Linked DNA regions of Homo sapiens. The protein of the gene in region 3 interacts with the protein of the main gene of each other region in a biochemical or structural test. Each region holds a gene or a part of one and is shown on either strand. Other genes may lie near its edges.

Region 1 (7,719 bases), about 210 Mb from region 3:
CCTCAAGAGAGGCAAGGGCAAGTGGGAACCCTGAAGTGGGAGGGTCTGAGCAGGGGTCTCTGGATACCCCAGGGCTGATGGGTGAAGGCTGCTGCTCACCTGTTTCTTAATCTCCAGCCCTCCCCACTCCCCAACTGTGACAGAGTCTGGGCCCAGGCCAGGTCCCTCCTCCTTGTGTTCAGCCCAACTCAAAGCCACCTCCTAGCTGTGTGACCTTGGGTAGTCCTTACACCTCTCTGAGCCTCAGTTTTTTTAATCTGCAATTGGAGATCACTCCTGACCTCACCTCACAGGACTTTTGTGAATGGCCTTCATTCGGGAAAAAGCATAGAGCATGGGAAGCAGTGTGGTGTGTGCGTTTGTTCATCCTGGCAGGGAGGGAGCCTGCTGTGAGGAAACGGCATGGAATTTGGAGTCAGAAGATCCAAGTTTGAATTGTTTCTTCTAATCACACCTTAGGCAGATTGCCTCACTGGGGCAGGGGCTCAATCTCCCATCTGTAGAAAGGGGTAACAGATCCCTGCCTTGCTTATCCAAGGGCCGCCTAAGATTAGACGAGGGGATCCCTGTGAAGTCTCTTCTGACTGCTCAAGCGCTGCATGCAGCCGTTTCTCATCAGCTATCACCCATTTGTGACTTGAGACTTCCAGCAGGGAGGAAGGAACCCCTTGCTGAGTGCTCCTTGTATTACAGTGAGGAAGAGGTTAAAAAAAAAATTGCAGCCAGGTCAGGGTGGAGGAGGCTGCCTGGCTGCTCTTCATCTTCCCAGACCTGACTCATAGATCTCCTGCAAGATGCAGGCTTCCTGACCGGTCAGATCGATCAGACCCTCGCTCCTTTTGGAGATTTTCTCACCATCCTGTAGTACTTCCAGGACTTCGTGACCTGTAGGCAGAGAGCGTGGCCTCTTTGAAGGAAGACATTGGAGCCGGACTTTCTGAGTTCAAATTCCACCTCAGGCCGGGTGCGGTGGCTCATGCCTGTAATCCCAGCACTTTTGGGAGGCCAAGGCTGGTGGGATCACCTGAGGCCAGGAGTTCAAGACCACCCTGGCCAACACGGCAAAAGCCCGCCTCTACTAAAACTACAAAAAATAGCCAGGTGTAGTGACACACACCTGTAATCCCAGCTACATGGGAGGCTGAGGCAGGAGAATTGCTTGAACCTAGGAAGCAGAGGTTGCAGTGAGCCGGTATCACACCACTGCACTCCAACCTGATAGACGGAGCAAGACTGCATCTCAAAAAAAAAAAAAAAAACACCTCAACCACTTACTCCCTGGGTGATCCCTTTGGCCAAGTGATTTAACCTCTCTGTGCCACAGTTTTTTATCTGCAAAAAGAAACAGACTGGGTGCGGTGGCTCACACCTATAATCCTAGCACTTTGGGAGGCTGAGGCGGGCAGATCACCTGATGTCAGGAGTTCGAGACCAGACTGGCCAACATGGCGAAACCTTGTGTCTACTAAAAATACAAAAATTACCGGGGGTAGTGGTGGGCACCTGTAATCCCAGCTACTCGGGAGGCTGAGGCAGGAGAATCTTACTGTGAGCAGTATATGCAGTAGGGCCCGCTCTCACTCCACTGCTACACTTCACTGTGATTACTGCTGTGGATGGTGCAATTACATGTCTGTTTCTCTCACTGGATGTTCTGGGCATTTCAGTTGAGACCCAGGAGTACAGGCTCACTGTTGATTCATCTCTAGCTTCGAAAGACCTAGCACAGTCAGGATGCAGGGCAACTGCTCACAGAACGCTGGATGCGTAAATGAATGAAAGCTCGTGTGAAGGAATGGGTTTATCCAGAGAATCTCCAGAGAAGACGACACATAAGAAAGTCTGTCTGTGATTCAGCCCTCACAGCCTGGAGCCTCCACGGAGCTTCAAATTAGAGTCCCCCTCGTCCTGACATCCTGTGTGGTCGGCCTCGGCCAGACACAGACCATGTGTCCAGCTTTGGGCTTCTCAGCCGAGGGAGGGTAGGCGCGGGAGGGAGGGAAAGGCTGAGGGCAAGGCATCCAAATGGACACGTAGTTGGGAAAACTAAAAAGAACATGGGTAAGAAGAAGAGTGGCCCTTCCTTTCTTTCTTGCCTAGAAGGAATTTTTGTAGCTAAGGCATAATTTACATACAATAAAAATGCAGTGTACATTAAGTATTCAGTTCAGTGAGTTTTTGGTTTGGTTTGGTTTTGAGACAGAGTCTTATTCTGTCACCCAGGCTGGAGTGCTGTGGTATGATCTCAGCTCACTGCAACCTCCATCCCCAGGGTTCAAGCGATTCTTGTGCCTCAGCCTCCCGAGTAGCTGGGGTTACAGGTGCCTACCACCACACCCGGCTAATTTTTGTATTTTTAATAGAGATGGAGTTTCACCGTGTTGGCCAGGGTGGTCTCGAACTCCTGACCTCAGGGGATCCACCCACCTCAGCCATCCAAAGTGCTGGGATTACAGGTGTGAGCCACCATCCCGGCCTTTTTTGTTTGTTTGTTGTTTGTTTTTGTTTTCAATTGAGACAGTCTCGCTCTGTCACCCAGGCTGGAGTGCAGTGGCCTGATCTTGGCTCACTGCAACCTCCGCCTCCCAGGTTACAGCTATTCTCCTGCCTCAGCCTTCTGAGTAGCTGGGATTACAGGCATGTGCCACCACGCCTGGCTAATTTTTGTATTTTTGGTAGAAACAGGGTTTCACCATGTTGGCCAGGCTGGTCTTGAACTCCTGACCTCAAGTGATCCACTTGCCTCGGCCTCCCGAAGTGCTGGGATTACAGGCATGAGCCACCACACTTGGCCTCAATGAGTTTGACCAATGAAGTCACCCATGTAACCATCACCACAGTCAAGATAGAGAATATCCCCTTCTGCCTTGGGCATAGCATGCTAAAAAAAAAAAAAAGAAAGAAAAAAATGTATAAAAAATTTTAGAAAGATAGAGAACATTCCCATCATCCATTTGTCCAGCGCCCTCTGAGCAGCAGGTACCCTCATGCCCCTTTCCTGTCAGCCCCCAGCCCCCAAGGCTGGTGCAGCTGGGTGTGGACGGAATTATACACGATGTGCCTGGCTGCTTTTGCTCAGCTTGAGTCTGTGGAATTTATCCATGCTGTCGTATATATCAGTAGCTAGTTCATTCCTTTTTGTTGCCAAGTAGTATGTTGCTGTATAAAAATACCACATTTTGTTGATCCGTCTGCCTGCTGATGGGCATTTTGGCTGTTGTCAGTTTAGGGCCATGATGAATCAGACTGCCCTGAGCGTGGGTGGTTGTTAACCACCTGTTCTTTGGGGTTAAGAGGACATCACTTCCTCTGTCGTACGAGGGATTTATGTGAGCAGGGCCACCACACGTGGTCATATATACTGTCCACAGAGGGATGCCTGGCCGGGGAGTGACTGGGGCTGACATTAGCCCAGCACGCGTCCCTGGGCCATGCCCAGGAGGTTGCAGCCCACAGACGCCTATTTCCGGTTTGCACAGAGGGGTTGTATGGACTGTTGGGGCTTGTAGGCAAGACCAAGAAAGAATCAAGGCATTGCAATCCCGCGGTGAGCCAGGTGTGGTGGCTCACGCCTGTAATCTCAGCACTCTGGGAAGTCAAGGCAGGTGGATCACTTGAGCCCAAGAGTTCTAGACCAGCCTGGGCAACATAGTGGGATGATGTCTCCACAAAAAAAAAAAAAAATTTTTAAATAGAAAAAATTAGCCAGGCATAGTGGCCTGCACCTGTTGTCCCAGCTACTCGGGAGGCTAAGGTGGGAAGATCACTTGAGCCTGGGAGGTCGAGGCTGCAGTGAGCTGTGTGATCGCACCACTGCACTCCAGCCTAGGTGACAGAGCGAGACCCTGCCAAAAAAAAAGAAAAAAAGAAAAAAGTCCTGCGGTGTTGCTGTGGTGTTCTCATTTGAGGAGATCTTCAATGGCATTGGAGCCCTGGCCCTGGGGCAGTTTTTTCTGTGACTCAGGGTAGACCAGTCACTCTCCACCGCTCTTTGCCTCCAGGACTCCTGCTCTTCCCAGGAGGCAGGACGAGATGGGGGTAGGTAGGAGCATAGGATGTGGAGTCAGGCACGTCTCAGTTCTCATTCCAACAACACTTGTCACTCGTGGGGCACCCTGGGCCAGCAGCTGCTCCGTGCCGAGTGTGTTTCCCCATCAGTCAAACGGCTTGTAAGCCCCGAGGGTCATTGAATGGCTCAACGGGACACTATTTGTGAAGTCCCAGCACAGAGCCTGGCATTCAGGAAATGGCAGGGGGTGGGAGTGAGGGTATCAGTGGCCTCTTGGTCCGGTGACTAAAATAACTTTACTGGGTCGGAAAGCTCTCCCTGAACTTCCAGAACAAAGCATGGGCCCCACATGGTGCTACCTCCCAGCAAGAAAGGGGTTGGGAAACAAAGGGCTGGGGCCCAGCGAGCCCCCTGACTTGTGTTTTCCAGACCTGTCTTCCTCGCTGGAAGTTTTGCGTGAGTGACACAGAAAACAACCTGGGCTTTGCGTTGGGCCCCATGTTTGTCAAAGCAACCTTCGCCGAGGACAGCAAGAGCATAGTAAGTGCCTTCCCCGTGGACACAGGCTGTGAGGTCACACTTGTTGTGGCCTGCACAGACCTGCCAGTTCACACTCCAGCCCACCCTGGGCCTTTCCTGCTCCTGGGCAGGGGACCTTAGGGCCACAGCCTCAATGCAGAGGCTTCACTTCCTCGAGCCCTGGGTAATGGGAGTCTCACGAGGGCAGCTCTTCAGTGCCAGGCCCTTATCTGCACGAGCTCATGTGATCCTCCCAGCAGCCTGCAAGGCTGTGACAGCCATCCCCACCTCCAAGGGCTGTGAACGACCCAGAGAGAATGTTGGCAGAACAGCTCTGGCCCAGAGGGTGACATTTTTCTTATTTTGTGGGTGACAGGTTTGTTCTAGACAGGCAGAGGAGTGCCATGGCAGAGCGCCTTGGAGACAGCCCGGCCTAAGCTCAGATCCTGGCCTCACCGCTGGTCGGGTGGCCTGGGACAGTTCTTACATCATCTGCAATGTGGAGACGGGGGCATTCCTCCCACAGAGAGAGATTAAATGAGATGCCACACACTGGGCACCGGCATACAATAAGGGTTCAGCTAATGGGAGTGGTCATTTTATTGTTACAATCTTGATGACAAATAGTATTCATTATGTAGCTGTCATCTGCAGCCGGAGGTGAGCCAACCGCAATTCAAATCCATTACAGTGACTGGCCTGTGAGCAGCTGGGCAGGGTCTGAGTTGGGGTCTGCTGGCCCCTCTGCTCTTGTTGCCGCACAGCTCTGCCTTCCCCTTCTCTAGAACCTTCAACTTTCCATCTTCGAGCTTGTCTGCTCATGACATTGTCTCCCTCAAGAACACCTGTCTATATCCAGCCTGAGCATGGTATTTCCGAAGCTGCTCCTCGGAACATGAGTACTCTAGATCTTAAAGCCCGCTCCATCAAAAAGGAATGCTGTGGTCCAATAAGGCAATAAGGCTGGGAGAGGCTGTGTCTTCTCCCCTCTCTGGAAGAATCACGGTGCCTATTATTACCATATTAAAGGCTCTGAAAAGTACCACAGCAGAGACTTTTCCAACTTTCCCGAAGCTCATCCTAAGCTTATTGGAGCATGGAGCCCTGTGTGTGGAAGGCCAGTCCTGTCTTGCAGGGTGTTCACGTTAGGAGCGTGGTTTGGAAGCACAGCTGTGGCTCCCCTTCTCACCCAGCCTGACGCTTGGAAAATTGAGTTTAATCTCTGGCCATCATTGTTCTGCACGGGGTGCCTGTTGCATTTACCTGAGACCAGTGCGCAGACCTTACTGCTGTGATGTGTATCTCCTCAGGCCACCGAGATCATCCTGGAGATTAAGAAGGCATTTGAGGAAAGCCTGAGCACCCTGAAGTGGATGGATGAGGAAACCCGAAAATCAGCCAAGGAAAAGGTGAGGCTGGCCAGGCACTTGGAGGGGGTGCTGCGGCGTCCAGCACAGATAGAGGAGGGTGGGGGAAGGAGAGGCCGGTTTTTTTGTTTGTTTTTTGAGGCAGAGTTTCGTTCTTGTTACCCAGGCTGGAGTGCTATGGTGCGATCTTGGCTCACCGCAACCTCCGCCTCCCGGGTTCAAGCGATTCTCCCACCTCAGCCTCCCGAGCAGCTGGGATTACAGGCGTGCGCCACCACGCTCGGTTAATTTTGTATTTTTAGTAGAGATGGGGTTTCTCCATGTGGGTCAGGTTGGTCTCAAACTCCCGACCTCAGGTGATCGACCCGCCTTGGCCTGCCAAAGCGCTGGCATTATAGGCATAAGCCACCGCGCCCGGTGAGGCCAGTTCTGTCCGGCAGCACAGCCTGGATGCTGTCTCGCCTTCAGCGGGTGAGCGGTCTAGGCCTAGCAGGATTCGGGGTAGGCCTCAAGCACATGATTGCTTGGATGTCTGTAGAAGACAAACCTCGCTGAGTGTACGGGGAAAAGGTGCAGGAAAACGCAGCACGTCCCGTGGGTCGGGAAGGCTCTGGCACCCTCCAGTGGGATGGGAGTCAGGGAAGACTTCCCTTGGGAAAGTGACATTTAAACAGAGACCTAAGGGATAAGTAGAAGTTTTGCAAGGGGGAAACCTTTCCAGAAAAAGACATGAAAGCCCAAGGCAGGCAGGGCCTGGCTCTGGTTCCCCTTGGCCCAGACTATGAGCCCAGCACCCAAGTTGCTCAGGCTGGCCTGGTCGATGTTGCCGGGCACTCACTTCCTCTGTCTGTCCTGTCCAGGCCGATGCCATCTACAACATGATAGGATACCCCAACTTCATCATGGATCCCAAGGAGCTGGACAAAGTGTTTAATGACGTGAGTAGCTGCTGCCCTGCCCCCTTGCGTTCCTAAATGCCCCCTTAGAAAAGGGCCGAGGCAGGGCTGGGTCCAGATGGGGTGCTAGAGGCAGCATGGTTGTCAAAACACACAGGGATGATGTGGTGTGGGGCTTGGGTATGGGTCAGGCATGAGGAAGCCTCTTCTTCTTCTTAATTTGGCTCCTGGGTCAGCTGGAGGCCCTGCCTCCCCATAGCCACCATCCATCAGCAGTGCCCACCAGTCAGTACAGAACCCGTGCTGTGTGCCCCCTGGAAGTGGTCAGCTCCATTTAATATGTGGGAAATAATGGAGGAAACAGACCCCAGAAGGTGCAGAGAGAATTGGTGGCCCTCAGACATCAGGGGTGGGGTATGAAGTGGGAAAACCCCCACACCACCTCCTCCCTCCCTGGTCGTGCTTCCAGTTACCTCCTGTCCCTGCGGCCCTCCTCCACCTCCCCAGAAACCCGGACCTCTGATTTTGACTTTGAAATGCTAATGGGAAAGAAGCAGCTTAAATCCAGGTGCATTTTTAAGCTTGGTTTGGGCAATGGAGGTGGTTGATACATCCCTGCTTATTAGAACTTTTGGCAAATCACTCAGTTAGGTGGATTGTGCTTCTGCCTCAAATTATGAAGTTTTATATCTTCTTGTGATTGAAATACTTGAATTCAGGTATTTAAGAAAAAATTTTTTTTGAGACAGGGTCTCATTCTGTTGCCCAGACTGGAGTGTAGTGGTGCTATCTCAGCTCACTGCAACCTCCGCCTCCCAGGCTGGCTCATATTCATGAGCCACCATGCCCAGCCTGAATTCAGGCATTTAAAAATCTAATAACCTCTCGTCATGGTTATATTTAGAACCTAAGACTATAAAGACTCATT
Region 2 (7,719 bases), on a different chromosome or scaffold from region 3:
CCAAAAACTGTCTTGATACATGCATAAAAACAGCATATTTTAGAAACTCTTATAACCGGTGATTATCATTTATCTGTAGGTTATCCTTGAGAACTCAGCCTGAAAGATAGATAACCAGAGAGATTGGTTATAAGGAAATTATATAGAAAATAAGTGGTAATTTTCTGCTCAGTAATTCAATCATACAGCTATCTTTTGAATGCCCATTTACAAGTAGATTTTCTGCTAGACACAGTTACATTAAAAAAAAAAAACCCACAACCTCGTCATCAGATAATGCTTACCTAAATAAGAGAAATGAATAGAAGAACCTAGTTTTGTTGTCATGCTAATATGAAATATGGAAACACAGAAGAAATAAAAAAGCAATAAAGTTTTGTCTAAGACAGTATTCTAATTATGAAATAAATGTACAGAAACTGTTCATAACTGTTTGCATGTCTACTAATTTAGTGTAATACTCCTATTAGGAAACAGCAGTATTAACCCTGTCTATGAAAACATTAGGAAATTGAGATTTGAAAGAGTTTAGCCAAGATTACCCCAGATGTTGGGATGGACCTAGATGAGGCCTGTGGTTCTTGGCAGTCGAGGTGAGGTCAGTGCAGCTATGTTTTGTCAATTAGTCACCTCATGACTTGAAAACTGTAGGGCAGCAGTCCCCAAACTTTTCGGGACCAGGGACCACAGTCGGGGGGATGTATGTATACTTTCTAGTTTGTGATATATTCTAAAGGGGAGAAGGTTTGGGGATGACTCAAGTGCATTATATTTATTGTGCACTTTATTTCTATTATTATTGCATTGTAATATACAATGAAATAATTATACAACTCACCATAATGTAGAATCAGTGGGAGCCCTGAGCTTGTTTTCCTGCAAGTAGACAGTCCCATCTAGGAGTGGTGGGAGACAGTGACAGATCAGGCATTAAATTCTCAAAAGGAGCACACAACCTAGATCCCTCACATGCGCAGTTCACAATAGGGTTCGTGCTCCTATGAGAATCTAATGCCACCACTGATCTGACAGGAGGTGGAGCTCAGGTGGTAATGCTAACGATGGGGACTGACTGTAGAGATGAAGCTTCACTTGTTTGCCTGCTGCTCACTCCTGCTGTGTGGCCTGATTCCTAACAGGCCAGAGACTGGTACTGGTCTGTGGCCTTGGGGTTGGGCAAACCTACTGTAGGGGGCTGGAGTTGAGCTGATACTACTAGGCCTTTCCATAGTATAATTGGAGCAACCAGAAAGACACAGTCTTTTATTTATTTATTTATTATTATTTTTTTAATTTGAATCCGTAGATAAATTTCAGCAACTTTTCTGAAAGTTTGCAAGAAGCCAGGATTGAGAATGAAGGGACATTTTGGAGCCCTTGTGGTGGTACAGTTCTTTTTATATCTAGATCTTGACCTAGATCTACATATGGCCGTTATAGAGAGTGTTGCTTATTGCCTTGGTGTTTCTGGACAGTAAATGGAACATCAAGAGTTCTCTGTGTCCATGGAAGGGTGGACAGGATTCCCTTGTAACCTTATCCATTGTTGTAATTCATTTGTGATTGTCCTAGCAGCACCTGAAGGACTTTGCATTTTACAAAGATGTTTAGAGAAAATTGGAAGAGGAGAATCAATGATGAAGATGAAAGAAATGTGGAGATTGGGGGTAAAGGAAGAAGCTGATAGGCAGAGATTTTAAAAATGGTCATGCCTTGATCCTTGCAAGTCTTTGGTTCAGAAATGAGCTTCAGTTGGAGAGCAGGACACTGTTGTATGAGGTTGAAGACAGAGTCTAGGTTGGAAGGGGACAGGTAGGTAGGTCTGGTTGGATTAATGGAATTGGGGGCTCAGGGGACAAATGAGTTAAGATTGGCATTTGGGAGCCTTGCCAAGAGATAGAAAACATTTGCCAGAAATTTAAGCATACTGTCTTTTTTATAGTCAGAAAATTCAGTCACTCGTAAGTTGGGACTGTTCACTTGTCTGAATGTTTTAGATTTAAAGAAAAAATATAGCTCTTTGATAAACAACGTGGTGTGGAGCTGTGGTAAGCCTGCTCTTGCTCCTGACTCACCGCCGCTCGCTCTCACCAAAAAACAGGTTGGTCAGGAGATACAGAAAAACGCCCATGAAGCCAGAGGTGGCAATTCACTGAATTAGAATCACTCTAGGCCCAGCGCGGTGGCTCACACCTATACTCCCAGCACTTTGGGAGGCTGAGGCAGGCGGATCACCTGAGGTCAGGAGTTTGAGGCCAGCCTGGCCAACATGGTGAAACCCTGTCTCTACTAAAAATACAAAAATTAGCTGAGTATGTTGGCACGTGCCTGAAATCCCAGCTACTCGGGAGGCTGAGGCACAAGAATCACTTGGACCCAGGAGGCGGAGGTTGCAGTGAGCCGAGATCGTGCCACTGCATTCCAGCCTGGTGACAGAGCGAGACTCCATCTCAAAAAAAAAAAAAAAAAAATACGAGAACACTTGGACACAGGGTGGGGAACACCACACACTGGGGCCTGTCATGGAGTCGGGGGAGGGGGGAGGGATAGCATTAGGAGATATACCTAGTGTAAATGACGACTTAATTGGTGCAGCACACCAACATAGCACATGTATACATATGTAACAAACCTGCACGTTGTGCACATGTACCCTAGAACTTAAAGTATAATAAAAAAATAAATAAATAAAAAGAATCACTCTAACGAGCTGCAAGGTAAAATCCTTGGAGAAGGTGTGTGCCGACTTGATCAATGGATCAAAGGAAAAGAATCTAAAGTGATAGGACCAGTTTGAATGCCTACCAAGACTTTGAGAAACATTACAAGAAAAACTTCTTATGAAGGTTCTGAGACATGGTATTGTTTCCAGATGAGAATCCATAAGTGACTCATTGACTTCCACAGTCTTTCTGAGATTGTTAAGCAGATTACTTCCATCATTATTGAGCCAGGAGTTGAGGTTGAAGTCACCATTGCAGATGCTTAAGTCAACTATTTTAATAAATGATTACCAGTTGTTTAAAAAAAAAAAAAAGAAAACTATAGAGAGCTATCTACCTTTTGGGACTACCATGGTAGCAGTCATTTGCTGTTCCTTTTTTTGGGAGGGACGGGAACAGGGTCTTGCTTGGCTGGAGTGCAGTGGCACGGCCACAGCACTGCAGCCTTGACTTCTCAGGCTCAAGCGATTCTCCTGCCTCAGCCTCCCGAGTAACTGGGACCACAGGTGCACACCACCATGCCTGGCTAATTTTTGTATTTTTTGTAGAGATGGAGTTTTGCCATGTTGGCCAGGCTGGTCTCGAACTCCTGGGCTCCAATGTTCTGCCTGTCTTGACCTCCCCAAGTGCTGGTACTATAGGTGTGAGCCAGTGCGGCCCTGTGGCCAGCCTACTATTCTTTATAGCCTGGCTTTGCTTCACTTTTCTACTGGTGCTTGTGATAGAACAATGAACCAATTAATTTTTTTAAAATTCCATCCTTAACATGTAAATGAGGAGGAAACCAGGTCATTTGCCAAATAAGGAAAATTCAAGCTTCCAAGGGAGTTTCAAAAAACAATGGAGGATCAAGTTCAATTGTAGGAGACTTTTTGAAATTCTTTTTCTTCTAATACATATTGCTTAATGAAGGTACTCCTGGGCATTCCACATATTTCAAAAATGTAGTCACTGAACCAGAACTTGAATCAGTTGTCTGAATTTCTCTGGATTGTGGGGCTCAGAGTCTTCTCCAGCCAATGATCTGGGGTGAAGGAAGTTAAAGAAGGCTTCTTCAACTGAGGGAACAGAAGAATGAGGAGTGCAGTGAGAAAAGGATGCCTCTATGGGTTGGGTGTGCTCCCTTCCTCTTGCAGCAAGTGATGAACAGTGCTATGTGGGAGCATTTCCCGGACAACTGACTCAGGTGTCATTCAGTGCCATAGAGAAAATTTCTGGTAAGGAAGGAGGCTTAAGCCATAGTATTTCTCACAGCTGAAACTGTTATTTTGTCAAATTTAAAACAGTTGTTAGTATATTCATCAATGAAACATCATTACATTGTCAATGAAACATTTCATTGTCAATGAAAAGAGTCAAACTGTAAAATCTTTAAAGAGGCTTATTCTGAGATAAATAATGTGTGACCAAGGCCCAAAGCACAGTCTCAAGAAGTCCTGAGAACATGTGCCCAACATGGTTGGGTTACAGCTTGATGTTATACATTTTAGGGAGACAGAAGTTATAGGCAGACAACAATCAATACATGTAAAGTGTACATTGGCTCAGTCTGGAAAGGGGATAACTCAAAGCGGGGACTTCTATTCCAGTTCATAGGTGGATTCAAAGATTTTCTTTTTTGTTTTTCTTATTTTTGCTTTTTTTTTTTTTTTTTTTTTTTTTTGAGACAGAGTCTCATTCTGTCACCCAGACTGGAGTGCAGTGGTGCAATCTCAGCTCACTGCAAACTCCGCCGCCCAGGTTCAAGCAATTCTTGTGCCTCAGCCTCCTGAGTAGCTGGGATTATAGGCATGTTGCCACCACACCCAGCTAATTTTTGTGTTTTTTCAGTAGAGATGAGATTTCGCCATATTGCCCAGGGTGGTCTTGAACTCCTGGCCTCAAGTCATCACCCACCTCAGCCTCCCAAAGTGCTGGGATTACAGGCATGAGCCACACATGTGGCCACATTCAAAGATTTTCTGATTGGCAGTTGGTCGAAATAATTAAGTTATTATCTAAAGACCTGGAATCCATAGAAAGGAGTGTCTGGGTTAAGATAAGGTAAGGGGTCATGGAGACCAGGGTTCTTAATATGTAGACGAAGCCTCCAGGTAGCAGGCTTTCAGAGAATAGATGGTTATTATCTCTTATCAGAACGTAAAATGTGCCAGACTCTTAGTTAAATCTCTCCTGGATCAAAAAAAGACCTGGGGTGGTGCAGTGGCTCACACCTGTAATCCTAGCACTTTGGGAGGCCAAGGCAGGAAGATTGCTTGAGGCCAGCAGTTCAAGACCAGCCTGGGCAACATAGTGAGAGCCTGTCTCTACAAAAAAATTAAAAATTAAAAAAAAAAATTAGTCAGGTGTGATGGTATGCACCTGTGGTCCCAGCTGCTTGAGAGGCTGAGGTGAAAGGATCACTTGAGCCTGGGCAAAGTGGAAGTGAGCTGTGGTCATGCCACTGCACTGCAGCCTGGGCAAGAGAGTGAGACCCTATCTCAAAAAAAAAAAAAAAAAAAGAGATCAGAAAGGTCTTTTTCTATAGAATGTTCCACACAAGAGACAGCTTTGCAGGGCCATTTCAAAATAGGTCTAAGAAATATATTTTGGGGTAAAATACCTTTATTTCTTTCACAGCCTGCTATCTGTTGTGTGATGTTATACTAGAGTCAGTTTAGAATTTGGTATTTTATTGCTACAAAGAGTGTTTCGTCAGTCTTAAGATCTCTGTTTTAATATTAATGCTGGTCAGTTGTGCCAGAATTCCAAAGGGAGGAGAGTATAATGAGGTGCGTCTGACCCCCGCTTCCCATCATAGCCTGAGCTAGTTTTTCATGTTTACTTTGGAATGCCCTTGGCCGTTCAGTCAGAGGGGTCCATTCGGTCAGTTGAGGGGCCTAGAATTTTATTTTTGGTTTACAAAATCATTCCAAGATCCTCTTTAGAGGAAAAATTTATAGAGATTAGTGGGAATGATGAGGAGAACTCAATCTTGAGAGCTCAATCAAAAGGAGATGTTTAAATATCTTTTTAAGTTGGTATTGGTAAAGTGCTTTGAAGACAGAAAGAATGTAATACATGTCTGGTGTCTGCTTGTCCTATAATTGTCGGAAGGGCCTCAATGATGAAATAAGGGAGGCTGCCATGACACTTGAGTCTTGGTGAGAGGAGCTAGTGTGTCCACATTTATCAAGATCACCTGCAGGAGTTTGGGCTGGCCCCCTCTTATTAGTAGTTTCTCTGTTTTTTAAACTGGAGGCTCAGCGCCTTAGTATCTAGATTGGGTAGCTACATTATGAAGATAACTCAAACTGAACAATAGAGTATTGGGTATTAGTGGGAATAAGAAATGCATTGCTCTTTAAAGCAGCAGCCTCACTTCCATCTGCATCAGTACAGGATACTGAGAGGCTTGGTAGCATTCCACTTGTAGGAAGCACACAGAAAAATAATTGAATATAGAAAAGAGGGTCTAGTGTGACTTGGGGATTAGATAATAGAGCATGTTGAATTAGATGGAAATAAGCACATGTTCACTAAAGTGTGGCTAGCTTTGTTCCAGTCCAGTTGTTCACTGCAGTTGGGCATAATTCTGTTTTAATTAATTACCAATTCAGGAAATATTATTGCGATAAAGACTTGAAGAATTTATGCATAGAATCTTGTCTTGGCACATCATCGAATGACAATGACTATTAGTAGAAAAAATGTAGTTACTATCCCAGCCTTTTGACTAATCCATAACTAATTTTTTAAGTTGGTTAATGATAAGCAAACTGGCCCTCAGTCAGTTGTAAATTGATGACAAAGTTGTTACTATAAAGACTGAAGACTGTCGTATACCTGGTGTTTTATCAATCCAATGAGTCACATGGAAAAGTATTACAAAAAATTATCTGCAAGGTAATTTTTTGTTCAGATCCTTCTGAGATCTGGCAAATAAATGTATTCACCAACTGAGATTTCTTGTTTAACTCACAAGTTTTCTGTATACATTGAAGAGTTCTTATAAATTTCCTTTGCAGATCCCATTCAGTGATATGCATTCTTTGTTAAATAACTCACAGATACTCATTATGTCTAATGTAATTTTTCATTTTAAATAAGGAATTATAGGTTAAGATGTTCTTTTAAGACTATAGTATAGCGAATTGATGGAATTTAAAAGTAAACTTTTTATCTTTAGATCTTGTGAAAGTATTTGCAGCTATGCAGATTTGCTTGAGAGATTAATAAGCATAAATATTTAGGCATCATTGACAATGTAAATTACTTTATATTGCTAAATCTAACAGGGGCCCTAAGCATTGTTAAAGACTGGCACCCTATATTGTGAGGAAAGATTTAAGAAATACTATGGAATATAAAGATTTTTTGTTAATTTGATTGGGGGGACAAGTTTGTATAAATATAAATGTAAATAATTTAACCTAGGAAAAGAAAAAGAAAATTGAAAATTGGAGCTAAAATAATTTGATTTTTCCCTCAACAGGGTTATTGGCTGTCTTTTAAGTGACTAAAAGAGCGTATCTTTATGTGAATTTTAGGCATGGTCATATGATTAATACAAGGATAAAGCAACCAAATGCTCTCAGTATTTATTCCCGTGCTATTTGTCTGTTTTTTAGTTCATGGAGTATTGTATTGTACTTGGTAATTTGATGCTTTTGAGATGTCCTTTAGACAGATTTTTAACTACAGGACTTCCTCTGTAGAATCGACAATGTGTTTCACTCTCTGTGGCATTGACAATGTTTTTGAATGCCTAATTGTTCAGTAGAACTCCGTGGTTATTATTACAACTTTGTACATTATTATAAATATTTTATATTAGTTGTATATTCCACTGCAGATAGCAACCAGAAAACTAAATACAGAAATATTACATATAGAGAGAATATAATGTACAAAAAAAATCTTGGGAGATGAGTGCTTTGGGTTTAATTCTATTTTACTGAAACCAGAGAATAATAGGATTCAAATCTACCTAATTTTTCTATTTTTCTGATTTTCC
Region 3 (7,719 bases):
TCCCCTTGCACGTTCCCTGCAGGGACCTCGGTGCTGCCCACCTGGGCTGGCAAGGCTTTTAGTTTAGAGGGGGGAAAGGGACAATTCTTTTCTTCCAACAAACTAAACTAAAAAAGGGAAGCTGCCTCCCAAAAGACGCTGGGATTTGACATGAGAGTGGCTGCCGTCTTCCCTCTGCTCGTCTGACATGCACAGCTCACCATTCTCATCCGGAGGCTAGGTAAATCTGTCGAGGTCAAGTCAGGACCTGGTGTCATGGAAACCACCAGGGCCAGCGCCCCATGCTCAGGAGCACAGCAAGCACTGGGCAGACGGTACCCTGGAGCCCATCAGGCCCCAGATCCTCAGGTCCTCTCTAGTGGGACACATCTAGCTGCCTGCTGAGGTCATGTAAATAGAACATCATTGCTAAAGGGAAACCTAGAGGTCCCGAGACAGCCCCCGATCTCCTCACTGGACAGACCATGTGGGCAGGAAGTGGCTGCCTCCTTTGACGGAAACTGAGGCCAGCAAAGTTAGGAAGTGGGGCAGGGTCAGGGCAGCATGCGGTGGAGGCCGGCGAGGATCCTGGGCTTCCTTTGAGTCCCGATGTGGTTGGCTTTTTTATTCTTCCTCCTCTTCCTCCTGGCCTGGCTCTGCGGTCTGGGTCAGGTGGATGTGCTCTCTTTCGAAGGGAGACCCATTTCAGATGCCACTGGCTTTCTTGCCTTTGCCTTCTGCAGGACCCTCCTTCTCAGTGAGCGCTCCTCCCAGCACTTCTCCTAGGGACAGCAGGCTAAGTCCATGTGTCCCTGCTCTGCCCTGCACAGTGTGCTGCCACCCTCAACCGGGCAACCCTCGGGCTGGCCTCTGCCCCTGTGACCAGTCAGTGCCAGGGCTGAGCAATCCCCCCATCTATCACCTCTCCCTGAACCCGAAGGGAAAGACCTCAAGGAGGTTGTTGTGGTAAGAAAAATCACTATGCGCCACTGAACCTCTTTCTCCACAGTCTTGTCTTTCACCTCCCGCCTGGCTCTCTGTCCCTCACGAGGTTAACATCTTGACAGAGCCTCCTCAGTGTCTCTTAGACACACCCCTCAGCCCCACCCCACCCATGGATTTGCCGAGCTGCTCCCTGAGCACGTGTTCCCGTGACTGTGTGCCTGGACTCTTGCGTAACCTTCAAACAATCCTCCCTGCCTCCAGTCTGCACACGGCAGGCTTCCGGGATGACCTCTGAACAGAACGCGTCCCCATTCCCACACCTACCAAGCATGGCGTTCAAAGTGTCTCCAGCTCTGCCCTCCCCAGGCCCATTTTCTGGTTCAACACTCATGCCAAGCCAACCGCCCCATCCTCGTTCCTTGCCCCAAACTCTGCAGGCTGGGCTCATCATGCTTGCTCCTAGCTTCACCAGCCCTGTTGCCCTCACTGCCAGGCAAGGCCTGCTCTCCGCTCCCCAGTGACCTCTGTCCTCTGAGAGCCCCGAGGCTTCCCTGAGTTACCTTGTGGAGCACGTTTCCCTGCAGCTCCAAATCCTAGGCATTTGCCCATTGACCTTTAAAAGCCTGGAGGCAGGGCCTATACAGCCCTCCTCTGGCCTCCTCTGAGATGCCAGGCTTAAAGTCTTACAAGTAGCAAATCCTCAACAAGTATTTGTTAAATGAATGCTTTAAGCAATCTGTGGCTGGGTGCAGTGGCTCACACCTTTAATCCCAACACTTTGGAAGGCAGAGGTGGGAGGATCGCTTGAGGCCAGGAGTTCAAGGCTACAGTGAGCAATGATGGCACCACTACACTGCAGCCTGGGTGACAGAACAAGACCCTGTCTCAATAAAAAAAAAAAAAAAAATCAACAATCTTTGTAGTAGAGGGTTTTCAGTAATGCCCCTCCTAACATGAAAGGGATTTAAGCAAGCCAATTGCTTATTTCTGCATGGGCCAGGGACCCCAGTTCCTGACCTTCTCAAGAGATATGAACCTGACCCTTCTGAGTGTAGAACTGGGCTGTGGGGCCAGGAGATGTGGGTTTCAATCCCAGGACCCCCACTGGTGGCTGTGCCATCTTGAGCAAGGCACTTTGTTTCTCCGAGTCTCTATTTCTTCACTGGTAAACAAAGGCACAAATACCTCTTCACCACATCATAAGGGGATTAAATGATGTAAGAAAAAGGATGTTGTATAGTCGTGCACATAGTAGGGCAGCAGGTCCAGGAGGTGGACGGCCCATCCAGGGACCCAGCGGAGCAGCCACTTCCCCACTTCTCAAGGGTGGTCACCAGGTATGTCCGCAGGGCTGCCCCCTGCCCATCTCCAAGGCCTGACTGGCTGATCTCAGCTACACATTGGATACTAAGTCCTAGGGCCAGAGCCAGCAGAGAGGTTTGCCTTACCTTGGAAGTGGACGTAGGTGTTGAAAGCCAGGGTGCTGTCCACACTGGCTCCCATCAGGGAGCAGCCAGTCTTCCATCCTGTCACAGCCTGCATGAACCTGTCAATCTTCTCAGCAGCAACATCCAGTTCTGTGAAGTCCAGAGAGCGTGGGAGGACCACAGGGGTATAGAGAGCCAGGCCCTGCACAAACGGCTGCTTCAGGTGCAGGCCTGGGGCTGTGAACACGCCCACCACCGTGGACAGCAGCAGCTGGGCCTGGCTATCAGCCCTGCCCTGGGCCACTAGCAGGCCCTGTACAGCCTGCAGGGCAGACAGGACCTTGTGCGCATCCAGCCGGGAGGTGCAGTTCTTGTCCTTCCAAGGAACACCCAGGATTGCCTGTAGCCTGTCAGCTGTGTGGTCCAAGGCTCCCAGATAGAGAGAGGCCAGGGTGCCAAAGACAGCCGTTGGGGAGAGGACGGTGGCCCCATGGACCACGCCCCATAGCTCACTGTGCATGCCATATATACGGAAGCCCAAGAAGTTGGCCAGCATCCCGACCATTGCGGCCCTCAACTTGTCTTCGGTGTCAAGTTTTGCAGCGACTAGCACCAGCTGGTCCTGTAGGGCCTTTTCATCCACAGGGGATGTCTTGGCCTGAATTGGAGCAGGTATGAAGGTGGGGTCTTTGGGCTTCCCGGCATTGGCCTTTGCCAGCTGCTCACAGGTACTCTCATTGTGGATGACGAGGTGGAAGGGGTGTATGTACACCCGGTCACCTGCAGCCAGGCCAGCCCAGGCCAGGAGGCAGAGGATGGTGGCCCTCAGGCTCACACCGGCAGGAGCCATCTCAGACTGGGGTGCTCGCTTCCGCATACCCTGAAATATCATTTTGCAAAGGGTGAAAGGTGGTTATTAACTGACCTTTAAGTGCCATCTAACCAGATCTTTCATTGTCTCAATATTCCCTGTCACCATTTAGCCCAGAATAAATCCATTCATGTCTACAAAAAAAAGAAGAAATGGATTCAAAGCTCCATGGAAAATATCTACATGATCCAAGTGCAAAATGCACCAATATCAGCTGAATTATGTCCTACCTCCCCCAACGGCCATAATGCCCGTGTTGAAGTCCTCAACCCCAGGACCTCAGAATGTGACCATTATTTGGAGACAGGATCTTTAAAGAGATGATTAAGTTAAAATGAGGCCATGAGGGTGAGCCCTGATCTAATATGACCTGTGTCCTTATGAGAAGAGGAGATGAGGACATGGACACACACAGAGGGAAGACCATGTGGGGACACAGAGGGAAGACCATGTGGGGACACAGAGAGAAGACGGCCATCTACAAGCCAAGGATAGAGGACCCAGAGGAAACCAACTCTGCTGATGGCTGGCTCCCAGGCTTCTAGCTTCCAGAACTGTGAGATAACACATTTCTGTTGTTAAACCCTCCCAGTCTGTGGTACTTATGGCAGCCCAAGCAGATTAAGACATGCTCCTGCCTGCAGCTGTAAGTTCTCTTCCTAGAGAAACAAGTGTGTGCCAATCAGTAGGTCTTTGTGGAGGCCTCCTAGACCCCTGAGATGCTCATTCGAGGGCCCTAGGGTGAGGGCTGGGGATGGTTTTGTCATCTCCCTGTGGTCCCAACATGCAGCCGGGATTGAGCACCACAGGCTCAGCCCAAAGTCCAAGTATTTCCCACGTGTCTCAACCCCAAAACCAGCTCTCAACCATCCCTGCATAGCGCTATCCCCTGCAGAGCCCCAAAGGCATGCATACCTAGCATGGCTTGCCCAATGATAGTTGGATTCCTTAGTCTGTGCTGGGACCACGTATAAAAAAAAAAAAAAAAAAATAGAAAATTCTCAGGTGACTCTGATATGTAAGCAGGGTTTAGAACCCCTGCCCTAGACACGGGTCCAGCACCACGTTCTCTCAAAGGCCTTGCAGCTGGGCTTCAGCCTCAGCTGCTACAAATGAAAGCTACCCTGAGACCCCCAGAAGAGGTTCTTGGGCTGGCCCTGCTAATTCATTTCATCTGACTCTTCTTGATTGAAGGGATGAACGTTTATTCTATTGATTCATTCAATTCTAACATTTTGTACCACATCTCACTCATTTCTTGTGGAGGGGGGTGTACTGCAATATCGTCACTTCTTGGCCTTTTCTGTCCCCCCAGGGCTAGGCCAGGCTTCCTTGGAGCTGTAGCGTGTCATCACTGACTCAAGGCCACCTTGATGCCTAGATTTTTCTGCTTCATCTAAGCATACCCAGTCATTCTTCTTACATTGGCAGCTGGCTTCCCTCACCCAGACCCGTAACCAGCACCTGCCCTCAACACGGTGCAGCTGCTGAAGTACCTGGTGTGTTTTGTTCTGCTTCAGTCATTCAAATGCCAAATTCTGACCTCAGCTACCATCTCACCCCACTCCCCATGCATTTGACTCCATCCGCTGTTCTCAGGAAGAGCCACATGACATGGAAAAATGGAACAGAAAACTCTCTCTGCTGCTTGCAGGCCTTTCTGTGCAGAGAAGCCTAAGCCACCAGTTCACACCTAATCTAGACAGTCACATCAAATCAGGTCAACAGGGGAAACCTGTGGGAACCGACTGCTGGGAAGTCCTGCCTGACAAGCGCCAACTGTTCGGGGTTTGGATGGCGCTGGTCGATGCAGCCCGCTCACTGTGCTGCTCCTGCTCAGGCAGCGTCTCCAGAGACGCAATTCCATGGGCCATTTTTGAGGCAGAGACTGTCGTTTGTTCTCAGTTGTGATCTGCGGCTGCTCCCTAGGCTGGTTCCAGGTCTGCACGCAGCCGCGTCCTGGGAGTAATGGTGCTCTGGGGTGGCGGGCCTGACACCCTCGCCCTGAGTGCCCCTCCGCCTTCTCCTCTCCTGCCCCTGCCTCTTGGCCAGCACCTGCCCCTTCTATGTCTCCCTACTTCTCCCGGGCTGAATGCTAAAGGTGAAGATGACGGCTCATGCTCCTGTGGTGCCTGCCATTTGCAGGGCACTGTTCTCATATCAACCCCTCTGACCTCACCATAGTCCTCACCTTCCCTGAGGTTTCCCTGATGCAGTATTTCACCCTGCAGCTTTCCCCACCACACCGGGCACTCTCAACTCTCTCATCCAGCTCCCCTTTTCCCTCCTTATAACCCTCTGTACCATGTAGTTATGCACTTATTCTGTCCAGCGTCTTTGTCTGTTTGCTCTGATGTGAATGTGAGCCCCGGAACAGGGTTCCCGCTGTTGTGTTTACTAATACAGCCCACATTCCTAGGATAGTCCCTGGGACCTACTGCATCCTGGAGAAGTAGTTAATGAATTGGTTCATGCTGTTTTGCAGAGGAACAGAGAGGTCCAGTGACTTGTTCAACGTCACACAGCTGGGAAGAGACAGAACTAGGACTCAGAACCAGGCCCCCTGACTCTGTCATCCACGAGCTGAAGCACCAATCTACGCTGCCCTCGAATAAAATTGGAATCTGCCTTTTAGCTTATCCCAAAGCTTAGAAAGCACTTTCATGTTATATTAGTTCTCTTCAGCTATACCAGAGCCCCTGAGACAGGGAGCCCAGGCATCGTTATTAGTTCCATTTTATAGGTGAGCAAATCGAGGTTCAGGGAGATGGTGACCAGCCTGATGACACACAGTCAGGCAGTCTGTCTCGAGGGAGGGGTAGGGTGACCACTCTGGGGATCCCAGCTGGAGACTGACCGAGCCCGGCCCTTCCCTCCAGCCCCAATTCCTGCACAAGCCCTGCTATTCCTCCTGATGGCAAGAGGACCCGGTGGACTCTTGGCCATGATGACTCTGTTCCTGTACCAGTCTGCTCCGTTCCTGAGGACCCTAACTTTTCTCAGCGGAAGCAGGAAGACCTGACCATCTTGTCCTATTGCTGAGGAGGAGCAGCTCCTCCTGTAAGACCCCAGGTGGGCACCGAGTGGGGGAAAGCCCGCGTCCGGATGACTGGTCTTATGAGAGGGGAGAGGTTTTTCAGTCATCACCGTGCCTCCTCCCGGCCTTTTCCTCCTAGCCCACAGCTCAGTTACATCTGAGAGAGACAAGACCGAGAAGGAGCTGAGGGGGCCCCCGGCTTACCTTCTGCTGTAGTACCCAGAACAACGGCAGCTTCTTCCCCCGGCCGGGTCACGATGCCCTATTTATAGCTGAGGGGTGGGGATGGAGCTGTTCCCAGGCTGCCTGTGCACAGGCTGGAGAGGAGGGTTACATCACTTGGCCAGACCACAGGCTGGCCAGAAGGACAGATGCCAGAAGCGACACTCACGCTGGGACCTCTTCCAGGAAGTCTTAGTGATCGATGCAGAGTTTCACTGCTGAACAGAGTGAGCCGGTGCAGGGTCGAGTTACACATTTACCGAAGTTTGCAGGAGTCGGGGCCAAGGTTCCCAGAAACGGGAGCATCTCCCTAGGTGTGTGACAGCCTGAGGCCAACCACCCAGGCCTTCTGACCCAGCCCCGGGAGATGTACCCCCAAGAGGCCACAGGGACATGCAGGCCGGAGGTGCAGAGGGCAGAGGGCAGGGGAGAGTCTTGCTTAGGCAACACGGGGGCCACTTCTGACCCTGCTGCCCGCTCATGGGATGTGTGACCTTCAGCTGCTCCAAAGAGCCTACCCTGTGCAAAGGCCTCTAATAGACACTGGGGAAAACACACAAGCAAGTGAAAAGTGCCTTCTGGAAGTTTCCAGTGTAGCTGGGGAGACTGTTAAACACCAACAATAGCACAGCCAGATTGAAAGACACAAACAAAATGCCTTCAGGATGCAGGCATTGAAAGATGTGCTGTTCTGTGTTTATGCTGTACAAATTGCAAATGGTAAGTTTCACATGACCAGTAAAAGGGTTATAATTCTTATTTTCCTATAGGTAAGACTTGCTTTTGTAGTCATTATAACAGGGCATGACAGAGACCTTGGTGAGAGTCGCCAGAAGCCAGTGATCACAAGTGACGCAGTGGGTGAGGCAGGTTGGGAGTGGTGATGTGTCCAGCCTTAAATACATGGTATTAGGGCACTGAAGGGACAGGAAGGAAGATCCTGCTTCAACACAAGCAGGTTCAAGGAGCCACGGCATATCCACGATGGCAGACATGAAATTACCCAGGAATGGAACATTTAACAACAAAGAGCAGGAAGAGATGGTGCCTGGATATGAGGCAGAAGCTGTACATTCACTGACTGAACAATCAACAAACACACAAATACCTCTTTTTTACCCATTACTCTAAATCTTCATTTAAAAAAATCATATCTCACATGGGCCTGTAAATTCTGAAATACATTTTTTTAATTACTTTGTTCCTATAGATAGGGACTCCTCAAAAATCACTTGTCT
Region 4 (8,358 bases), on a different chromosome or scaffold from region 3:
AATGGGCAATTCCTGAAAGTCACTGGACGATAAAACATAGTTACATTTGGTTTCAGAAGATTCAGAAAAGATTAGGGGAAATTTTATTATTTTATTAAAACCACTTAAAAATAATTCTGGTGAGCCTCAAAGCAAGTAGCCATGTTGATTACATGCATTTTGCTCTCACGTTTAAGACACAAAGGTCTCCATTTCTCTAAGAGAACTGCTTTTCCGGCAAGACATACTCTCTCTTTTCCCTTGGAGCCAAGTAATTGGAACCCTAAACACACTGCGGAGCTTCTGTTGGAACCGGTTTCCAACAAAACAATACAGAAACGGATTAACGCAGCTGTTGGTGAATCCCAAGAGGATGGCAAAAGGAAGTGCCAGGTCAATGACTGCTATAACTTCGCAGCTATTAATGACACCCATCCAGGCCAGAGCATCCAGGAAGGTCAGAACATGGAAGGGAAGCCAGCAAATGATGAAGGCCAGAACAACAGCAGCTGCCATCTTCAGGACTTGGTCACGGGTTATCCTGTTCTTCCCATAGCTATTCGTCTTCAGTAAGTGTTTTCTAATTCCAAAATAGCATGTTGCTATGAATATTAAAGGGATAATAAAACCAAGGATATTTTTCATTAAGGCAATCCCAGCTGACCATTGGGCATATTTCTCAGGTGGGAAAGCCATAATGCAAGCATTCACTCCTAAGTATTCAATGGTTCTGACGTCTCGAAAATAAAATGTTGGCAATGAGGACAAACAGGCCATACACCAAACAAGGGGAACTATATAAGATGCTTGCCAGGGATTTCTTCTTTGAGACAGAAAGGGGTAGATGACAGATTGGTACCTATCAACACTCATGCAGGTGATAAAAAAAATGCTTGCAAACATGTTCAGGGTAAGAAAAGAACCAAAAACTTTGCACATCACAGGTCCAAAGAGCCAGTCATATCTATAAGAATAATAGGTTGCCCATAGAGGAAGAGTAGCCAAAAGGAGTAAATCAGCCACAGCGAGGTTGAAGATGTATATGCTAGAAACCTTTTTAGGACCCTTTTGACAACAAAACAGTGTAACCACGACAATATTGACCAGAAATCCAATTACAAATATAATGTAGTAAAGAATAGGAATTGCATCTAAATGCTTATCTGATGGTTTCTGTGAACAGTTCAAGGTAGACTCATTGTTGCCAGAGATGTTCACAAGCCCGAAGTGAAGACCGCTGGTAATGTTTTTGCTAGTAGTGGCAAGGGTGGAGTTGCCCTTCATATTGAAATGTCAGCAGCTCCTAGTTCTTATGCCTTCTGTGGAGAAAAAACATAGAACTCTTAGAACACATACAGAGCTGAGGACATCCTTGAATCATTAGCATTTTGAATGTTTGTCAAAAGCAAAAAAAAAGTGAGTGATTATAGAAAACATTAAGAAACAGAGCCATGGCTTGTAAAACAAGAATTCATTTTACCTCTTGAAAAAGGAGAAATAATTTTCCTGATAGTAGAAAAAAGACATTTCAGAGATTCAAAGTTCTGAATAAAACTACCTTTTGCCCATCTTTTCTATGATGTTTTTGAAAGATTTAAAGAAAATTAATATTTCAAAAGATTAGTCAGGGCAGGAAATGTGTGAAACAAATAAGAAACCCAGAGGTAAGAAAAGTTAATCTTTCAAAAAACACTTGAGCATATATCTCTGTTTGTATACTTTCTAGAAACCACACTGCTGCTTGCTATTGCATAGAGAAATGCTCTATTTAAGTAACTAATTACATACAAATCACTACAGCTGTGGAAAATATAAGTAACATAAGCAATGGAAAAAATAAGTATATAAAAAACTAAAAGAGAATATGCCAAAGGAACATATTGTGATGGGGAATCATGGTTTGTCTTTAATAATTAAAAATAATTCCTTTAGTTTTACTTTTCTATTGTTTTCACAATAATAATATAGTTAAGAAGAAGTTATGAAATATATTTATATTTCTAAGTCTTCTCCTTTTAATAGAGAATATTAGTTTTAGATATAGATATCTAATTTTGGTCTATTTAATATCTAAACAATCCATTTTCAATTAAATCAGATAAAGAAAAAAACAGCCAAACCTATGTTAGGTTCAAGTAGAAGTAGTTTAGATTGCTCAGTGAAATGAGAAATGAACATCAATGATTAATCATGATATAGTCTTATCATTTTTCTTTTTCTCTCTTTTCGGTTTAACCGAACTGAATAGCCGTTGCTCTCAAACGTTACAGTGTTGAGGTTTTTGTGATTTTTTTCACTAGAAGCATTATTTTAAAACCAAAAAAAAAAACACATTAGCTAAAGATAAGCATACAAAGGAAACACTATTTACTTTAGATAGTTTCAAAATACATGCAAATAAGCTACCCAATTAAAAGTGTAATATCTAAAGAACCTCCTAATAAAGAGCAAAACTTTTATTTTGCTCTAAAGATTTTTCTTTTGACCTAACAAATTAACATAAAAGAATCAATAATAAATTCCACTTGAAGACTTACTGGTTGTTGAAGTTTAAAGCAGTTATCATAAATCAGCTTGCTTAGTGCCTAAACACACTCCTGTAAGAGAAACAGCAGCTAAATAATTCAGGAGTTTTGCAAAATACAGTGTTAAAACACAGGAAAAACAGAAGTTCATCCATAAAAAATATTTTCATTTAATGTATGTTCTACTTTCCAAGTAAATTATATATAAATTGTTCATACTTACCTTCAAAATTCAGGCTGCAGAATGCTTTGAATTCTGTGCTTACTCGTTCTCTCAGACGCTGGGACGTAATAGCACCAGATCTCTGGTTTCCTTCTTATATGTTTGGTCTGTCCACTGGGAGCCTTCAACCTACATAATTCTAGGGCTGACTTATGAACCCTTGCCAGCTTTCCAGAGAGGTTTTTTTTTGTCTGCAAAACATTAATCTGAAATTCTCACTGTCTCCAATCATAACAGCTCATTCAAATAAATCTCAAACAAAAAAAATGAAGTTTCCACAAATGTGCTAGAGAATTTTGAAGTCAGTGGCTTACTTGGTAGGAGAAAAATATAGTAATTATTTACAGAATTTTCTCTTCCTTTTTTCCTGATATTGGCATTCTAATAGAAATTAGTGAGTAGAGACTAGGAAATTTATTATAGTAGCAAAGTCTTTGTTCATCAGCTTTCACAACCTTCATTACTTTCTGAAATTTTTACCCCTGTTTATTAAAGAATGGTAGGAATTTTACTTGAAGTCTACCACTTCTAAAATTTCTCCCTTGCTTTGCGCAGTTTTTGTTGGCTTGTTGCTGGAGGGTTGGAGATTGCAGGAATATAATTTTTACACGACCAAAAAGAGGTTTAGTCTCCTTTCATAGGTCTCTGTCATATTTGTGGTTTAAATACAAAGCACATAAAGTGAAGAGGGATTCGCTAGCTATTTCAACCTAGATCACTGTTGCTGCTGTCTCTTGTGGCAGTGGGGGCAATAAACTACACAACCAATCCAGCAGAAGCAAGAGTGACAAAATGAAGAAAGATAAGAACAGGTGATGGTAGTGATAATACTAGCTGACAATAAATGTTATGTGCCGAACACTGTGATGAGTTATTTATCATCAATAATTTAATAGAGAGGCAATATAGCACACTGGTTAGTAAATAGCCTCTGGGATCCAACTACCTGGCTTTACAAACCCAGCTCTACCACTTACTAATTCTGACCTTGGCCAAGTTACTTTACTTCTTCATGTCTCAGTTTCTCATCTGAGAAAGGAGAATGATATAAATTACCTACATCGTAGAGTAGGAATTTTAAATAAGCTAATGGAAAATTAAATGAGCTAATATGTTTAAAGTGCCTAAAATCATGCCTAGCATATGGTAGGTGCTATTACAAGCTATTCATATTAGCCCCCACTTTACAAATCAGGAAACTAGGACTCATAGAGTTTAATAACTTTTCTGAGATCATACAGCTATTAAATGAAGACACTTGCATTTAAATCAAAGGAAACTAATATCAGAACTCACGCTGTTTAGCCTCTATACCACAAGAGGAAGCACTAGATGGTCCCTTAGTCTCACTCTTTGTCTTGGCAAAAAGGAAACGTGGCATTTACAGAAAATCACTGATGACCATTCATAATCTATCATAAAAGCATCAAAGAAGGGGAAAAGAATTGGAAGAATTGTTATGTGGGGAAACGTATTTTTCTTAATTGTATTGCCCAAATGGAGACCACAGGAAGGAGAAACTTGTGACTAGATGGCTTTCTATAGTTAGTACAGAGAACCAGAGAACCTAGAGCACATTTTAAATGGGCAAAAAGATTCAAGTTATTTCTGTGGATCATATTTTTCAGATAAGCAGCAAGAATGCACCTGTCCATGCTGCAGGCCACAGGTAAAGAATGAGGGCAGGCTCTGAGGAAGTAGCTGGGCACCTAAGTATGGAGTTCAGCAGAACAAGGAAGGAGAAGTCAGTGTTGATGACAGAAGACAAAATTGCAAATGGCATGAGACAAATCACATGGCTTTTGATATCTGTCTGTTTCTCCATTAATATTAAAGTCAATACTGTAGCACACAGGCAGATGAGATCAGTGAGAAGTCATCGTTATGTGAAAAATACAGTAGGATTCAAAGGTTTGCATAGGCCATCATAAAGTTTGTTTGGTAAACAGTTTGAACATTGTCAAAATGCCCCTAATATATGTATGCACCATTTTACTAAATCTCAAAATATTTGTTTCCTATGCTCTGGACAGATTCAGTTGAGGCTGAGGCTCTGTTAAAATGATGGAAAACTTATGTTTCAGAAACAAATGAGGGGGCACATATGTTTATCAGCAGGAAAGCTGAGATGGAAACTGTTTTCACTCATTGTTTAAACCTGGTTTCTCCCTCCATTTCAAATGTTTGTTTTTGCCACATAAAGGGGAAGTTTCCAGGCCAGGGCCTCCCGAGTGGTCACAATGGGTCAGATTCTCACCCTGCTCTTTTTCTTGTACCCTCTTAGGCCCCTTGCAAAGAAACAGCCAGGAGGTGAGCTATAAAATTATGAGAACAAACTACAGGCTTGTCTCCGGAAGACCTAGCCTTGAACACCCACAAGGAACAGGGGACCTTGTCTAGAGCTTTTGTCCTTCATTACAGTAAGTTCTGACATAAATAAAGTTTAAAGAGGTACATATTTCCCAGAAGATTAAAGGGCCATTTACTCTGCGTCTTCATAATCTTAGGAGTAATTTTTTTCACAAGTCAAAGAAAAATTTTGTAACTGCAGAGAATTAACAAAAAGTTTATAAAAAGAATAGCAATAATATTGACACCACTTGAAGAAATACTGTATATTATTGATTCAGCAAAGAACTCCCAGTTAAGCCAACAATGTAAATACACTTGAGAGTCAAATAAGTGTCAGTCCTGGGAAGCAGTACAACACAAAAAGTTCATTCTCCTGGGAGTAGGGAATAATTTTTCTGCTGGTAGACTTACTTAAAAAGTTTCAGGCCATTTGAATAAATTATGCAGCTCTGCAGGACAAGTGTAGCTGAGCTAGCAGAATTAAATAGTAAATCACATTAAATTAATTTTTTTCTAATGAATACCTGTTGTTTATTGTGAGATTACTTAACAGTAAATTTTAAAGGACTAAGCTAAAAAAGTAAATGTTCTTGAGAGAAATTCTTCCTCTGCTAGAAGGTTACAGAGTTCAGAACAAATTTTATTTGCCGCCTCACCTCCACCCACACACACAGATGAAACTTCAAAGGAGAAAAGAAATACATAAATGCAAAAATGCGTAAAAATTCTAGACATAGTGCCCTGGTTATAGAGGTAAAGATTAGAGGTACAGATTACGGAATGATTTTAATATATATGGGTCTTCCTTTTTAATCTAGGTCTCTCAGAGTCATTTTAACTTTCCCCAACCCCAGCCACCACACTGAGTGCCAATATCATTGCCACTTCTCTCAACTTCAACACACACACACACACACACACACACACCATTCATACCCATGTACCCACGTACATACTTTATACCAACTTTTCTTTAATTCACTTACCCATAGAGTAGCCTTGCTTTAATTGTCACTGGACTTTTCCTAACCTGGGGGTCTCTAAAAGGAGGGTAGTTAAGAAGATTGCCCATTATTGATGAATCTTTGCATATTATTTTTGTGCCTGTCTGTGAAATGTCACAATTAAAGCAAATGGAAAAAAAAATAAGGTCTTTTATTCAGAAATAACAATCAGATTGGCCATTTTGTAGAAACCAGCTTAAAATTCAGTGAAATGCCCAACATGAGTGATTATTTTCATCAAACTACCTCTTTGTCTACGCATCACATGAAAAGTGACACAGAGGACTATTAAGTAAGTTAAGGTGAAACTGATGTAGTGAGATGAATGGATGTCAGACTCAGTACATTCTTGAGACCAGCTGCTTCCAGCTGAATCTGGTCCCAAGAACATAAGGAGAAGGGAGAGTTCTAATTTCCCTTTGCCCCAAAGACAGCTTCAGGCCTGAGCACCATGTTCAGACTAGAATCTTGCAAAAGGCACCCTAGTTCTATCCTCAAATGCTATATAACCCAACTGGTGGAAAAAAATTTTAAATGAAAATTATCTATATTTTTGTTTACATTCCAAATATCAGCTAAATGATTTGACATTTCTCCCACTGATATGACTAAATTAAATAGCTTGACTAAATTATCCAAAATTGCCAATTGACTAAATTGGCCAAACCAACAAGCTGTCTTGGAAATATTTAAACACCACTCTTAGGCGATGGGGATGTTTTGGGGGGATGTTTTGGGGAGATGTTGTCAGGTTAGAACTCTCATAGGGCAGTGGATCAACAAATTGTTAAGCTAGAGTTTGGTCCTTGAGCTTTAGGTCTAGATATTGAACTTTCTCAGAATACCCAGGCTCTCAGTGATGGCTCATGTCAATCAAATTATCTCAAAACTGATATAGTACTTTGATTGTTAATTTATTACTTTGCAATAGAGATATACTACTTTCCAGTGACCACAAAGATTGCGTTCCTTATCTGAAGCACCCTCTTCATCTCCATCCCAATATTAGGAAACAAGGTAAATCTGGCTTGGTAACTTTGCAATCAGATCAGGAAAGCTGGTAACTGGGAACCTATTTTGCTTTAGTTTCGGGAAATTTCTGTCAGGGATTATCACTCGGGTTGCCAGATTGATGAGCCCTCCAAGTCATTCTCTCAACAGTTTTGCCTCTCTGAACCCTGTTTTTCTGGTAGTCACCCCATTCTGTTGATACATTATTTGAAATATTACTATTATTGATGAAGCTATAATTAAGTCCCTGTCCAGGTGGCCTAGAAGTAATTCAAGATCTGCTTTGATTGATTGGACAAATTCTCAAAGCTGGAGATTAGAGAGAACAATCCCTCACCAAAGAGACAGGGAAAGAGGCAAAATAATCATCTCTCCAAAACTGACCATCAATTCAGAGCAAATGGTTATTTAGCTTTGTTTAAGGGAGTCATTTACCCCAACCACTTTTCAAGCTCCTAAAAGGATACAAAAACAAAAAAGAGTTGTACAATTTTGGATATTTTTGCTTTTGAGCTGCAAAACAACGTTGTGCACATGTATCCTGAAACTTAAAGTATAATAATAATAAAATTTGAAAAAAAAAGAAGATAGAACAAGATGACAGGAAGTTTGGGGTGGTGTTCTGGGTGGATCTTGAGGTTTTTACTCCAAGGAAATGAAAACAGGAAGTTTATCACTAGGAATTATGAGAGTGCTTGAGCTTTTAGATATTTACCCTACAGATATTTGAATTCGTGGTTTTCAATAAGGATTTGTAAAATGTACAACGGGAAAGCAGAATTTTTACGGTAAATAATTTGCAATACACCCACAAAGAAACTAGCTCATACTTGGGTATCTAGAAGTTGACAGCTTTCTTTACAATTAATTTATTGCATGTTGTTTCAGCAGTAACACTCCTATTTTTTATTGGTTATATTTTATACTGATCACACAACTGAAATTATTCTTCTTTTAATTGTTTTTTTAAACTGAGATATAATTTACATATGAAATGCACCGTTTTAAAAATATATTTAGTATATTCATGAAGTTGTGCAGCTATCACCACTATATAATTCCAAAACATTTTTATCACTTCTTTTTATTATTATTATTATTATTATTATACTTTAAGTTTTAGGGTACATGTGCACAATGTGCAGGTTAGTTACATATGTATACATGTGCCATGCTGGTGTGCTGAACCCATTAACTCGTCATTTAGCATTAGGTATATCTCCTAATGCTATCCCTCCCCCATCCCCCCACCCCACAACAGTCC

What was found.
Region 1: of the proteins of AGT (region 3) and ECE1, one has a biochemical effect on the other in vitro, tested with the Homo sapiens proteins (one study listed by BioGRID).
Region 2: the proteins of AGT (region 3) and LNPEP form a complex in vitro, tested with the Homo sapiens proteins (one study listed by BioGRID).
Region 4: the proteins of AGT (region 3) and AGTR2 are reported together in a solved structure, tested with the Homo sapiens proteins (one study listed by IntAct).

The regions. Positions count from the first base shown.
Region 1 is NC_000001.11:21,234,964-21,242,682, reverse strand, and holds part of ECE1 (endothelin-converting enzyme 1), read left to right. Parts: intron 1-4,438; coding exon 4,439-4,549; intron 4,550-5,838; coding exon 5,839-5,937; intron 5,938-6,755; coding exon 6,756-6,833; intron 6,834-7,719. UniProt on the Homo sapiens protein: Converts big endothelin-1 to endothelin-1.
Region 2 is NC_000005.10:96,940,201-96,947,919, forward strand, and holds part of LNPEP (leucyl-cystinyl aminopeptidase), read left to right. Parts: intron 1-7,719. UniProt on the Homo sapiens protein: Release of an N-terminal amino acid, cleaves before cysteine, leucine as well as other amino acids. Degrades peptide hormones such as oxytocin, vasopressin and angiotensin III, and plays a role in maintaining homeostasis during pregnancy.
Region 3 is NC_000001.11:230,707,623-230,715,341, forward strand, and holds the start of AGT (angiotensinogen precursor), read right to left. Parts: upstream 6,501-7,719; 5' UTR 6,464-6,500; intron 3,232-6,463; 5' UTR 3,202-3,231; coding exon 2,373-3,201; intron 1-2,372. UniProt on the Homo sapiens protein: Essential component of the renin-angiotensin system (RAS), a potent regulator of blood pressure, body fluid and electrolyte homeostasis.
Region 4 is NC_000023.11:116,165,186-116,173,543, reverse strand, and holds the start of AGTR2 (type-2 angiotensin II receptor), read right to left. Parts: upstream 2,801-8,358; 5' UTR 2,728-2,800; intron 2,577-2,727; 5' UTR 2,517-2,576; intron 1,299-2,516; 5' UTR 1,264-1,298; coding exon 172-1,263; 3' UTR 1-171. UniProt on the Homo sapiens protein: Receptor for angiotensin II, a vasoconstricting peptide. Signals primarily via a non-canonical G-protein- and beta-arrestin independent pathways. Cooperates with MTUS1 to inhibit ERK2 activation and cell proliferation.